Linked DNA regions of Homo sapiens: regions 1, 2 and 4 are each reported to be linked to region 3. Evidence: microRNA targets listed by miRTarBase, many of them from high-throughput screens and not tested one by one. Region 3 holds a microRNA gene; each other region holds the end of a gene's coding sequence.
What was found. The annotated mature microRNA hsa-miR-521 reads AACGCACUUCCCUUUAGAGUGU and lies in region 3 at 2,980-3,001, shown strand. An mRNA with a match to its seed (bases 2 to 7 or 8) in the 3' UTR can be bound and repressed. Matches are read on the target gene's strand: a 7mer-m8 pairs with bases 2 to 8, a 7mer-A1 pairs with bases 2 to 7 and ends in A, and an 8mer does both.

Region 1: miRTarBase lists FOXI2 as a target of hsa-miR-521. Seed matches in the 3' UTR shown: 7mer-A1 at 2,239-2,245.
Region 2: miRTarBase lists ERCC8 as a target of hsa-miR-521. The part of its 3' UTR that is shown has no 7-base or 8-base seed match.
Region 4: the mRNA of ADRM1 is a reported target of hsa-miR-521. Seed matches in the 3' UTR shown: 7mer-m8 at 360-366.

Annotation. Positions count from the first base shown.
Region 1 is chr10:127,738,577-127,741,576 of GRCh38, forward strand. FOXI2 (forkhead box I2) reads left to right here. Exons shown (of 2, transcript NM_207426.3): 2 at 1-2,607. The coding sequence ends at 389. Among named protein-coding and RNA genes, the nearest start is that of FOXI2, 2.9 kb to the left of the region's middle.
Region 2 is chr5:60,871,954-60,874,953 of GRCh38, reverse strand. It overlaps ERCC8 (ERCC excision repair 8, CSA ubiquitin ligase complex subunit), which reads left to right. Exons shown (of 12, transcript NM_000082.4): 12 at 271-3,000. The coding sequence ends at 339. Among named protein-coding and RNA genes, the nearest start is that of ELOVL7, 29 kb to the right of the region's middle.
Region 3 is chr19:53,745,710-53,750,358 of GRCh38, forward strand. It overlaps MIR521-1 (microRNA 521-1), which reads left to right and starts at 2,927; the gene lies at 2,927-3,013. LOC124904765 (a long non-coding RNA gene) reads left to right here. Exons shown (of 6, transcript XR_007067334.1): 3 at 494-697; 4 at 1,197-1,435; 5 at 2,559-2,681. It also overlaps the pseudogene RNU6-751P. RefSeq lists a silencer at 222-434 and an enhancer at 1,493-2,091.
Region 4 is chr20:62,308,438-62,311,437 of GRCh38, forward strand. It overlaps ADRM1 (ADRM1 26S proteasome ubiquitin receptor), which reads left to right. Exons shown (of 10, transcript NM_007002.4): 9 at 1-33; 10 at 218-425. The coding sequence ends at 324. LAMA5 (laminin subunit alpha 5) reads right to left here. Exons shown (of 80, transcript NM_005560.6): 72 at 2,964-3,000; 73 at 2,725-2,870; 74 at 2,465-2,657; 75 at 2,228-2,392; 76 at 1,982-2,135; 77 at 1,741-1,874; 78 at 1,551-1,644; 79 at 1,279-1,398; 80 at 628-1,038. The coding sequence ends at 899. Among named protein-coding and RNA genes, the nearest start is that of ADRM1, 6.9 kb to the left of the region's middle.

The DNA.
Region 1 (3,000 bases), not on the chromosome of region 3:
ACTTCCGAAGGAAGAGGAAGAGGAGAGCTGAAGCCAGCGCGGCCGTGCGCTCGGGAGCCAGGAGCGTGGGAGGGGCCGAGGCGCCAGCGCTGGAGCCCCCGAGCGCGGCTTGCCTGGACCTGCAGGCCTCGCCCTCTCCATCCGCACCCGAGGCCGCCACCTGCTTCTCCGGTTTCGCTTCTGCTATGAGCGCTCTGGCTGGCGGCCTTGGCACCTTCCCCGGGGGCCTGGCGGGCGACTTTTCTTTCGGGAGGCGGCCACCGACAGTCGCCACCCACGCTCCCCAGACCCTTAACCCCTCCCCTGGCTTCGCCCCTGGCCACCAGACCGCGGCCGCCGGCTTCCGCCTCAGTCACCTCCTCTACAGCCGGGAAGGGACCGAAGTTTGAAGGGAGGCTGGAGGCTAGCCGGGTGCGGGTCCAGAGGTGCTGAGCTCAGGCCTCCGGTTTCCCCTGGTGACAGCCCCACGTGTTGGCGTTGAAGGCCTTGGTGCCCTGGGAGGAAGCGCAGAGCCGGGGGCGGCTCGGCCAGCAGGGAGCTGGGCTGAGCGGCTCTTGGGCTTTGGGGTGGGTGGCCCTTCTGCTGTGCACCCCTCACCCAGGCGACCTTCGGAACCTCCCTGCTCTGCCTCTAAGTCCAGCCGCCCTGGGCGTCTAGAACCTGTGCTCTCGAGGGATTTGCCTTGAAGGGGCGGCGGGTCGGCCCTCAGCTCCAGCGTTTTCCAAGGAGGCTGGCTGACTCCAAAGAGCCTTAGAGCAGATGGGAAGAAGGTGGGCTGCCAGAGCGGCCCAGGTGGTGGGGGCCCTTTCCACCTCCACCCAGCTTGGCCCACCTGGCTCAGGGCCTTCCCTTCTGCTTCAGGGAAGCTGCCGCAGGGGCTGGGGGACAGAGCTCAGGAGCAGCTGCAGTGGGCTCCAGGTGGGCCAGGAGCCTGCAGTGAGGGGATCTGAGACAGTTGGCATTGGGTCCTGTGTAAGGAAGGTCTTGCTAATGGTTGGAACTGCTGGTGGTGGGAGGGAGAAGCACTGCGTGGGCAGAAAGCGCCCTTGGGATACCAGCTCCCTTCCCTGTCACTCAGCCCTGGTCCTTGATGACCCCCCTCTAGGACAAGGCAACTCCCCAGGGCCCCGCCACCACTGACCACAGGAGCGGTGCCCAGCACCCAGGAGTTCCCCAAGGGTCCAGGTTTGTGCCACCCACACCCACACTCACACCCACACTCACACCCACACTCACACCCACACCCACACCCACACCCACACTCACACTCACACTCACACCCACACTCACACCCACACTCACACCCACACCCACACCCACACTCACACACACTCACACCCACACCCACACTCACACCCACACACACTCACACCCACACACACCCACACTCATACTCACACTCACACCCACACTCACACCACACCCACACTCACACTGACACCCACACTCACACCCACACTCACACTGACACCCACACTCACACCCACACTCATACTCACACTCACACCCACACTCACACTCACACCCACACTCACACCACACTCACACCCACACACACCCACACTCATACTCACACCCACACCCACACTCATACTCACACACCCACACCCACACCCACACCCACACCCACACCCACACCCACACTCACACAGGCTCATGGAAGGCCACACTTGTTTTGGTCTCTTTCCCCTCCAAACCCACAGTTTGAGCCAAAGCTGTGCGTGTGTTCAGAGCTCCTGAACAGCAGCCTCCTGTGTAAATTGAACCCTGCCCCACCCAGTTCCTTCTTAGGGATGGTATCTTTGTGAAGGACAAGGAGCCCCCAGTCACTGGGAAGAGGAATTTTTTGGCCTCTGTACTCCTTAGAGGACCTAAGTGCCCCAGTCAGATGCCCTGAGTCTTTGTGGCATCTGGGACTCCCTGGAGATGGAGACGTTGGTGGGGGGGGGGTACCCACCTTGTTGTTGATGGGGGTACCTATCTTCCCTGCATTTTGGGGGAGGGTGGGAGGGGTCCTTCCCAGGAAGAGAGTGGAGACAGGTTACTGTTACTTTGGAGTGGGACAGGCTGGTTTAGCAATCCTAAGCCCCAGCCACGCAGGTATTCCTGATCTGCCTGCAGGGCCCCTCACTGCAGCTGCCACCAGTGCTGGAAATGAGAGCAGGGCTCCTGACTGTCCCTAGAGCTGACTCATCATGGCCCTGCTGAAGAGTGAGGTGTGTGTGTGTGTGTGCGTGTGTGCGTAAGACAGAGAGGGAGGGAGAAGGAAGGAGGCGGGGGAACATGGAGAGAAGGAGCCAGGAGTTGGGATAAACCTGGCCCTGGTCATATGTTTCATCAGCAGTGGCTCCTAACTCCACGTGCCATCTCTGCTGCTGCCCTCCACAAGCAGGTGAGCAGAGTGCCAGTTGTGTTGAAGGTGATGATGTCGCCTAACTAAACTCACAACCAACCCGCAATCTCTCTTGGGGGGACACTCCCCATAAGCAATACAATTAAAGAAGACCAGGAAAGGAAAATAAATTCCTTAGCTTATACATTTAAAAAGTATCCCTTGAACCTATTTTAATAGAATGAAATGCTAAAAATAAAGACCAATATAACATACATAGCTGGCATGTGTATGCTATTTCGTATAAGAATTCCACTGCTATGACAAACATCCCCATTTTAGAGTCTGAACTTGCAGGAAACTTGGAAAGATCTTTTCCTAATTAAATTTGACAACAGTTGGAAAATGCAATGGACAATTGGACAATCAGTGGAGCTTTGAGAAAATTGGCTGACACGTGTGGATGTAAACATGGAATGTCATGGCTGCATGACTGCTAGATGTTGGGAAGCTGCTTTTTTTTTTTCTCTAACAATGGTATTTATGTTAAAATTGAGAAAAAAATATTTAAGATTTTTCAACTTTTGGTTTGTTGCCCAAAGATCGTTTTTTACCGTTTGAAAGTTGCTCATTTATTCAAAGCTTTATACCATTAGTAGGTAATAGTA
Region 2 (3,000 bases), not on the chromosome of region 3:
GTATGTGTGTATGTATGTATTTGTGAAGTGATTAAAGGAAACAGGGTGTTTGGATAAAGTCTGGTGTTGTCTGTTTCAAATGAAGTTACATTATCTTATATTGTATATGGGTTGTTTCTTATTTTTGTTCTGAAATTAACAGTTATACATTTTCTTCCAAAATAATGTAATTGCTATTTATCTGATATATTTCATAACTTTATTGTGAGCCTAAAATTATGAAGTAGAAAAAACAGAATCTTCCTTTTTCTTTATCTTTTTTTTTTTTAGACTACAACAAAATCACAATTAAATCCGGCCTTTGAAGATGCCTGGAGCAGCAGTGATGAAGAAGGATGAATATCATCTTTAGTACCTTTTTGTCTCTGCTGAAACTTTTTAAATGAGACTGTGTTTTTTTCAACTGTATGGTCTATTCCTGACAGCTAAATTAGCCCTAAATGTGGGTAATATTTTTCCTCATGTTTTAAAATGAGGTTAATATTTGCATAAAATCCTAAAACAGACTTCTGTATAGTTTATTTAGTCAAAATGTGTTCCTTGATCCCAGATGTTGTGGCCTGGGAAAGCCCTCATTGCTACAGTACAAGTAACACAAGTCGTTGTACCTCAGTTGTGACCTTCAGCAGATTTTATGAACTATAAGATGCAGTCTCAGAGGATCAGCAAGTGGAGGCCATCAGTATTGACTTTCTCTTACTTGCTGTACTATCAGCCTGCTCGTTTCCACCTTTAAGAATGATTTTGCCAAGAATGATTATATCAAAAATAGTAGTTGAAATGGTAACATCAAAATTATTTTATTCTTTCTTCTTCATGTATTCACATTTTTCAGTGGTTTCATTTAATTAACCATGCTTTATGTTAAACATTTTGGGGCTCAATGTCTCCTACTATCCAAAATGTGCATCACAGGAGGCTTTTAACTTTGTGAAAATCCCATGTTTGCTTTATTTTATTTTAATGTCAGAAGGCAGTTTGCGCTAATGCTTGAACTCTTTTTCTGTGAAACTCATTAAGGTATGACCAAATCCTGCCTCATTAATTCAAGCAGAAAATATCCTGGCAGGGAATCTGGCTTAAACATGAAATGCTGTAATAAAATTTCTATGTTATTGTCTCCGTCTGTGTCAACCCACACGTGATTATCATGAAGGTAATCTTAATTTTCCCTTCCTGATCCTTACCAGCAGTAGACTAGTAAATGAGGCTTTTATGAGCTTGAATACCAAAAGTAAACAGTTGTTGAGGGTTTTTTGTTTTTTTGTTTTTTTCCTGAGATGGAGTTTCACTCTGTCGCTCAGGCCGGAGTGCAGTGTTTTGATCTCAGCTCACTGCAACCTTCACCTCCCAGGTTCAAGCAATTCTCCTGCCTAAGCCTCCTGAGTAGCTGGGATTACAGGCTCCCGCCACTGCGCCCGGTTAATTTTTTTGTATTTTCAGTAGAGATGGGGTTTCACCATGTTGGCCAGGCTGGTTGCGAACTGCTGACCTCAAATGATCCACCCGCCTCGGCCTCTCAAAGTGCTGGAATTATAAGCTTGAGCCACTGCACCCAGCCAGTTGTTGAGTTTTTAAGTGTATAAGGGTTAGACCTCCTATCAGACCTTTCCAGCTAAATGTTTTCCAAACACTTGCTTTTACAATTGATTTTTTTTTCCAATTGGCAGATAAAATTGTATGTATTTACCATGTACAACATACTGTTTTGAAGCATATATACATTATAGAATGACTAAATCTAGCTAACTGACATATGCCTCACATGGTTACCATTTTGTGGTAAGAACACTTTACATCCATTCTCTTATTTTTCAAAATTAATAGTAATCTTGTAATTGTAACTATAGTTACTATGTTGTGCAATAGGTCTCTTGCACTAATTCCCCCTTTTTAACTGAAATTTTGTATCCTTTGACCAATGTTTCTCCAACAACCCTAGCTCCTGGTAACCACCATTCTACTCTCTACTTCTATGAGATCAGCTGTTTGTGTATATGTACTACATTTTCTTTATCCATTCAACCATTGACAGATGCTTAGGTTGATACCATATCCTGGCTATTGTGAATAATGCTGCAGTGAACCTGGTAGTGCAGATATCTCTTTGACATACTGATTTCATATCCTTTGGATATAAGCCCAGTATTAGGATTGCTGGATCATATGTAGTTCTATTTTTAACTTTTTGCAGAAACTCCATACTGTCTTCCATAATGGCTGTACTAATTTACATTCCTACCAAGAATATGCAAGAATTCCTTTTTCTTCACAATAATGCAAGAAATCCTTTTTCTTCACATCCTTGCCAACACTTGTTATCTTTTGTGTTATTGATAGTAGCCATTCTAACAGGTGTTAGGTGGTATCTCGTTGTTTTAATTTGCATTTCCCTGGTGACTGCTGATGTTGATAATTTTTTCATATATCTGCTGGCCATTTGCATGTCTTCTTTTGAGAACTGTCTTTTCAGGTTCTTTGCCCATTTTTAAATGGGTTGTTTTCCTGCTATTGAGTTCCTTATGTATTTTGGATATTAACCCCCTATCAGATCTATAGTTAATATTTTTTCTCCATTCTGTAGGTTGTCTCTTCACCCTATTAATTGTTTCCTTTGCTGTGCAGAAGCTTTTTAGTTTCATGTAATTTCATTTCTGTACTTGTGCTTTTGTTACTGTGCTTTTGAGATCGTATCCAAAAAAATCATTGCCCAGACCAATGTCATGGAGCATTTTCTCCATGTTTTCTTCTGATAGTTTCAAATCATTGATTTATTAAGCCCAGGCCATTCTACTTTCAATCTTGTCCCCTTGGTGAGGATGCATTTGACCTTTGAAAAAGCTAGTTTGAAAAAGCTATTGGCCGGGCACGGTGGTTGTAATCCTAACACTTTGTGAGCTGAGACAGGCAGATCACTTGAGCTCAGGAGTTCAAGACCAGCCTGGGCAACATGGCAAAACCTCGTCTCTAAATAAAAAATACAAAAATTAACCAAGTGTG
Region 3 (4,649 bases):
TTCCGTTTTGGATGCTCCCATCGGGACTGTGTGTCCCTGTGCTGGAACTCGAGTGAACACTTGGCTCAAAATCCACTGCTGTTCTCTAGAGATCTGTAGGGTCCAGCCCTACTGGGCCTGTGGGTTTTTCTCTTCGTGAGCAGATAGGAGAGATTGTAGAAATAAAGACACAAGACAAAGAGAGAGAAGAAAAGGCAGCTGGGCCTGGGGGACCACTACCACCAAGACGTGGAGACCGGTAGTGGCCCCGAATGCGTGGCCGCGCCGTTATTTATTGTATACGAGGCAAAAGGGCAGGGTAAGAAGTGTGAGTCTTCTCTAATGATAGGTAAGATGACGCGAGTCACGTGTCCACCGGACAGGGGGCCCCTTCCCTATTTGGTAGCTTAGGCGGAGAGAGATTGGGGACAGCTTACGTCATTATTTCTTCTATGTATTTCTCGGAGAGATCAAAGACTTTAATACTTTCACTTATTCTGCTACCGTTATCTAGAAGGCGGAGCCAGGTGTGCAGAGCGGAACGTGAAAGTGGACCAGGAGCGTGACCGCTGAAGCACAGCATCACAGGGAGACGTTTAGGCCACCAGACGGCTGCGGGCGGGCTTGACTGATGTCAGGCTTTCCACAAGAGGTGGTGGAGCAGAGTCTTCTCTAACTCCCCTGGAGAAAGGGAGACTCCCTCTCCGGGTTTGGGAAGGTAAGGGGGTCCTTCCCAGGCACTGGCGCTACCGCTGTGCTAAGTGACGGGTGCCTTCCCCCTGGTGTTACCGCTGGACCAGGGAGCCCTCTAGTGGCCGTGTCCGGGCATGACAGAGGGCTCACGCTCTTGTCTTCTGGTCGCTTCTCACCGTGTCCCTTCAGCTCCTATCTCTGTATGGCCTGGTTTTCCCTAGGTTATGATTGTAGAACAAAGATTATTATAATATTGGAATAAAGAGTAATGCTACAAACTAATGATTAATAATATTCATATATAATCATATCTATAATCTATTTCTAGTATAACTAGTCTTATTCTATATATTTTCTTTGTTATACTGGAACGGCTTGTGGTGAGTTTCTTTATTATACCGGAACAGCTTGTGCCTTCGGTCTCTTGCCTCGGCACCTGGGTGGCTTGCCACCCACAGAAATCCTGCCCGTTTCTCTTGGTTAAATATAATGTATTTCTAGTAGGCATTGCTTCTTCTTTCCAGAGACAAAACTCAGGAGGATTGTGCTATGATAAACAAGGCTAACCTGCTGATTCTCTGAAGCAAGGAACTGGAGATGGTCCTTCTAAGGGTTTATATTCTGGATTCCAGGAAACATGCAAACAGGACCCATAAATGCATCTTTATTTTGGTGCCCATTTTGACCTGGTCAGGAGAATTCCAACAAAAAATCCACGGTGTTGGAGCAAGATCTCAGGCTCTCAGGCTGTGGCCATCTAGAGGTAAGAAGCACTTTCTGTTGTCTTAAAGAAAAGAAAGTCCTTTTTTTTTTTTTTTTTTTTTTTTGAGACAATGTCTCGCTCTGTCGCCCAGGCTGGAATGCAGTGGCGTGATCTTGGCTCACTGCAAGCTCCGCCTCCCGGGTTCATGCCATTCTCCTGCCTCAGCCTCCTGTGTAGCTGGGACTACAGGCGCCCGCCACCAAGCCCGGCTAATTTTTTGTATTTTTAGTAGAGACGGGGTTTCATCTTGTTAGGCAGGATGGTCTCGATCTCCTGACCTCATGATCCACCCGCCTCGGCCTCCCAAAGTGCTGGGATTACAGGCGTGAGCCACCACGCCCGCCCAGAAAGTGCTTTCTTTCAGAGGGTTACGGTTTGAGAAAAGCAGCATTGAAGTTGACGCTGATCTTGGTAATACATTTGCAGAGCATGCTTATGGTCAGACGTGGATGATGGTGGGGTTTTGTTTTTGTTTTGTTTTTTATCTGAGACAGGGTGTCTCTGTTGCCCAGGCTGGAGTGCAGTGGCACATCCAACCTAGATCTCTTGGGCTCAAGTGGTCCTCTTTTTGAAACAGAGTCTCACTCTGTTACCCTGGCTGGAGTTCAGTGGCAGGAACTTGGCTCACTGCAATCTCTGTCTCCTGGGTTCAAGCAATTCTCTGGCCTCAGCCTCCCGAGCAGGGTTACAGGCATGTGCCACCACGCCCGGCTAATTTTTGCATTTTTTTAATTGATTTATTTGTTTGTTGTTGAGACAGTCTCACTCTGTTGCCCAGGCTGTAGTGCAGTGGTGTGATCTCAGCTCACCGCAACCTCCACCTCCCATGTCAGCCTCCTGAATACCTGTCTCCAGGCATGCACCCCCACACCTGGCTAACTTTTGCATTTTTTGTACAGATGAGGTTTCACCATGTTGCCCAGGCTGGTCTTGAACCCCTGAGCTCAAGTGGTCCTCCCACCTCGGCCTCCTAAACTGCTGTGATTAATGGTGTGAGCCACCGTGCCACACCCGTACTTGTTTGTTTCTGCTCAAATTGTATTGAGGAGCTTTTACATCCTAGTCTGTGGTCTATCCTGGAGGATGTTTGTGTATATAACAATGTACATTTTCAACATTTTAGATTCCATTTTGGATGCTCCCATCGGGACTGTGTGTCCCTGTGCTGGAACTCGAGTGAACACTTGGCTCAAAATCCATTGCTGTTCTCTAGAAATCCTGCCCTATTCTCTTGGTGAAATATAAGGTATGTCTAGTCGGCATTGATTTTTCTTTCTGGAGACAAAACTCAGGAGGGTTGCCCCTGCATGAACAAGGCTAACCTGCTGAGCCTTTGAAGCAAGGAACTGGAGATGGTTTTTTTAGGGGTTTATATTCTGGATTCCAGAAAACATGCAAACAGGGACAATGAATGCATCTTTATTTTTCTGTCCATTTTAACCTGGTAAACGAAAATTTCACCAAAAAACCCAGAGTCCTGGAGCAAGAAGATCTCAGGCTGTGACCCTCCAAAGGGAAGAACTTTCTGTTGTCTAAAAGAAAAGAACGCACTTCCCTTTAGAGTGTTACCGTGTGAGAAAAGCAACGTTGAAGCTGATGCTGATCTTGGTAATAAGTTTGCAGAGCCTGCTTATCATCAGACTTGGACGACGGTGTAGTTCTGTTTTGGTTTTGAGTTTTTTGTTTGTTTGTTTTGTTTTGCTTTTGAGATGGAGGCTTGCTCTGTCGCCCAGGCTGGAGTGCAGTGGCGTGTTCTCAGCTCACTGCAACCTCCGCCTCCCAGGTTCACGCCATTCTTCTGCCTCTTGAGTAGCTGGGACTACAGGCGCCCGCCACCACGCCTGGCTAATTTTTTGTATTTTTAGTAGACACAGAGTTTCACTGTGTTAGCCAGGATGGTCTTGATCTCCTGACCTTGTGATCCACCCGCCTTGGCCTCCAAAAGTGCTGGGATTACAGGCGTGAACCACTGCGCCCGGCCTTAATTTTTGTATTTTTAGTAGAGACAGGAGGCTGAGCTTTCAGTGAGCTGAGTTCGTTCCACTGCACTCCAGCCTGGGCAACAGAGTGAGACTCCATCTCAAAAAAATAAAAAATAGGCCGAGCGTGGTGGCACATGCCTGTAATCCCAGCCCTTTGGGAGGCCGAGACAGGTGGATCACCTGAGGTCAGGAGTTAAAGGCTGGCTGGGCCAACAAGGCAAAACCTCGACTCTACTAAAAATACAAAATTACACCTGTAATCTTAGCTGCTTGGGGGGCTGTGGCAGAAGAACCTCTTGAACCCAGGAAGAGGAGATTGCAGTGAGACGAAATCATACCATTGCACTCTAGCCTGGGCGACAGAGCGAGATTCTGTCTCAAAAAATAAATAAGTAGGGCAGACAGGGTGGCTCACGTCTGTAATCCCAGCACTTTGGGAGGCAAGGCGGGTAAATCACAAGGTCAGGAGTTCGAGACCAGCCTGGCCAACATGGCGAAACCCCATCTCTACTAAAAATACAAAAAAGTAGCTGGGCATGGTGGCTGGCACCTGTAGTCCCAGCTACTTGGGAGGCTGAGGCAGGAGAATCGTGTGAACCCAGGAAGCGGAGGTTGCAGTGAGCCGAGATCGGGCCATTGCACTCCAGCCTGGGCGACAGTGCGAGACTCTGTATCAAAAATAAGTAAATAAATAAACAAAATAAAAGTAAAAAGAATTAAATAGATAAATATGGTACCATTATGAATTTGAGTGTCACCTTTGTGCAGGGGTCATGGTAATCTTTGTTATTTCAATTTTTTTATGCGTATTGCCAAAGCAAGCACATATGCGTAGGAATTATACTTCCTGTGAGAATACAATATATGGAGCTTTCTTTTTTGTTTTTTCTGTTTGTTTGTTTTTTGAGACACAGTTTCACTCTTGTTGCCCAGGCTGGAGTGCAATGTCACGATCTCAGCTCACGGCAACCTCTGCCTCCTGGGTTCAAGCGATTCTCCTGCCTCAGCCTCCCAAGTAGCTGGGATTGCTTGCATGTGCCACCAAGCCTAGCTAATTTTTTGTATTTAGAGTAGAGATGGGGTTTCTCCATGTTGGTCAGGCTGGTCTCGAACTCCTGACCTCAGATGATCCATCCACCTCAGCCTCCCAAAGTGCTGGGATTACAGATGTGAGCCACCATGCCCGGCCATGATATATTTTTATATATGTAATATCACATACACACAAAATA
Region 4 (3,000 bases), not on the chromosome of region 3:
CTGCAGAGGCTGTGGAGGCCGCCAACAAGGGCGGTAAGTGGCTGCGCCTGCACCTCCAGGCCAGAGCCAGGGGCAGGGTCCATTCCTGTCCCCCTGGATCTGCAGAAGTGGGGCTGAGGGGGTAAAGGTCACAGCCCTTCTGCCCTTGATCCCATCGCTTTGATCCCCAGTTCTGGGCAAGGGTTAGACACCACCTTGTGTCTTTAACGTGTTCTAGATGTGGAAGCGTTTGCCAAAGCCATGCAGAACAACGCCAAGCCCGAGCAGAAAGAGGGCGACACGAAGGACAAGAAGGACGAAGAGGAGGACATGAGCCTGGACTGAGCCACGCGCCGTCCTCCGAGGAACTGGGCGCTTGCAGTGCGTTGCACACCCTCACCTCCCACCCACTGATTATTAATAAAGTCTTTTCTTTTACCTGCCAATGCTTAGTTTCTTTGCCCAAAGGGAGTTTCGGCTGGACAGGTGCTAGCGTGGGGAGCTGCTGTAGGGTCCCAGAGACAGTTAGTTATTTGACCTAACAACGGAAAACGGTCACCCCAGGAAGAGTTTGGTGCCTCTGTCCAGGCCGGTTCCAGATCTGTCTTGAGACTCACTCTCTCCGTATTTAAGTCAACATTCATTCGGTTACACAGAAGTTACTTTTTAATTTTTAAGGAGGAACCAGTGATGATTGGTGACAAATCTCTCACAATTAAAAATGGGTGGAAGGGCCAAATATAAAAACATTTTGCAGTATTTTATTCTTTCGTTTAAGAAGCTATAACTTAAACCATCTTCAGAAACAAGATCTGTCACCCGTAGAGCTTAGAGTCCAAATAGACACCTATGAGGCGAGCACAAGGGGCGGTGTGAGGCAGCTGCAGGGGCCTGACCAGGGGCCGGGGTTGGCTGTGTCCTAGGCGGCTGGGCAGCCACTGGCCCCCACTGCCCCGTGGACCTCCACAGAGCGAGTCATGGCGACGGGGGACCGGTTCACCGCCAGCCTCCTCATGCAGCCGCAGTAGGCGGGGGGCCAGGGCTGCACGGCCATGGGCTCTGGGGGCACAGGGAAGATGGAAGAAGGCTGGTTGGTGGGCAGCTAGAGACCCACAGGCCCTTCCCAAACGTCAGTGCCCCACCCAGCCCCTGTCTCATTCCACATCATAGGAGGGTGGTAGGGGGGTGGGAGGAGGGTGGGAGGGGGCAGGGGGTGGAGGGGTGGGGGGAGGGTGGTAGGTTACGCAGCACCTAGTCCTGAGGGGCAGCTCCCCCACCCTTGATCAAGGCCGCACTCACCAGGCAGGCCCCCGAGGTACAGAGGGGCTGGGGCACCAGCTGCAGCCGCCAGCAAGGGGCCCACGGTGTGGTTGCTCTGCGCGTCCACCTCCAGCCGGAGCACATTCCCGCTTTTCATCACTGGGAGAAAGGGGGACTCCTGAGGCCAGGTGGTCCTCAGCCCAGCCTCTCTCCAGCCCCAAAAGAAGCCACCCCACCCAGAGTCCCGCCTGGCTCCCGCTCTGCAGAAGGGTGGGGGTGGCAGAGTGCCCTGGCCACAGGAGGGGCCTCACCCGCTAGCCGGTGCCACTGGCCATCACACAGCACTGAGGGGCGGGTCACTGACGTGGAGAACTCCCCTGCTCCGTCATCCGCCCGCAGCAGGACCTGGCGGGGTAGGAAGGGAGGGTCAGGCTATGCCCCCGAGGTCACCAGAATGGGGAGGCAAACCCTGCCCTGGCACGCCACCTCTGCCAGGCTTACTTGCTTCTCGGTCACCTGCAACTGCAAGTAGGGGGGCGTCCGGGCCTGGCCCAAGTGGAAGATCAGTCCGGTGACTGCCAGGGGCCGCACCTCCAGTTCCAGGCCCACATCAGGCAGTGTAGCTCCTGGGAGGTCTGCGGGGAGGGGTTGTGATGGAGAAGAAAGGGGGGGCCCCTCCCCAGAACCTCCTGGAGCCCCCTGCCCTGCCCTGCTGAGGCCTGGGATGCCAGCACCCACAGACCTAAAGTGATAACTCCCCCGCTGCCTGGGAAGAACAGGCCCGCCTCCAGGGGGCCCAAGATGCAGGGTGTGACCCCTGCCATCCGTGTGGGGGCCCCCAGGGGCCTCCCGTGCAGCCTCAGTCTCTTCACACAGCCGCTGAACCCGACGGTCACCTATAGGAGCAGACCGGGCAGGGATCAGGGCCCAGGGCAGCTGAAAGGGAACAGTGGGTGGGGAGTGGGGGCTGGGGCAAGATGGTTCTCACCGGAAGTTTGGAGCTGTGGCTGCTGGCCGGGAGGCCGCCCACAAAGAGGGTGTGGGGCTGGGGGTGCTCTGCCCCCTGGTGCTGCCGGTGCGGCCCCTCCTGGCTCCAGGCCCGGGCCCCGTCCGTCACCAGCAGGATCCGGTTCTTCTCCCAGCGCACGGAGACCTGGGGGCAGGAGATGGGTCAGGGTAGGGCTGCCAGGCCCTGCCCACCACCTTCCTTCTTCTCGGCCCTCACCTTGTGCCAGCGGCCAGGCCGGGAGCGCTGGCGGCTCTGGGCGCGGAGCCGAGTCCCGAGGCCTTCCATCTGTGCAACGAAGTGGCCATTGCTCAGGAAGAGCGCCAGGGAGGGGCTGCCGGGCCTCAGACGGGCAGTGAAGAGGAGGAGGCCTCGGGAGCTTCGCGGGAGGACGTGCATGGAGAGACTGGGCCTGGAAGCGGAGCTGGCGTCAGCCTGCGCGGCCCCTCTCAGCCCACCCCAGCCGGGCCTGGCCTTACCAGTTCCTATGTCGGGCCAGGATGCCCACAAACTCCAGGTGACTGGACAGGGAACCCCCAAACTGGTAGGAGTCTCGGGTGGTCCTGAGGTGTGGGGGCAGCATGCAGGCAGGATGCCGGGCGGGCTGACGGCTGCGGCGGGAGGCCTGGGGGCGTGGATGGTGAATGCAGGGGCCGCCCACACAGGGGCCACCCTTCCAGCCACCCCAGCTCTGCCTGCTCACCCCTGGGGTGCCCACCTTCCGGGCGGTGGCCTGCAGTCCTCTAGGCCCCAGG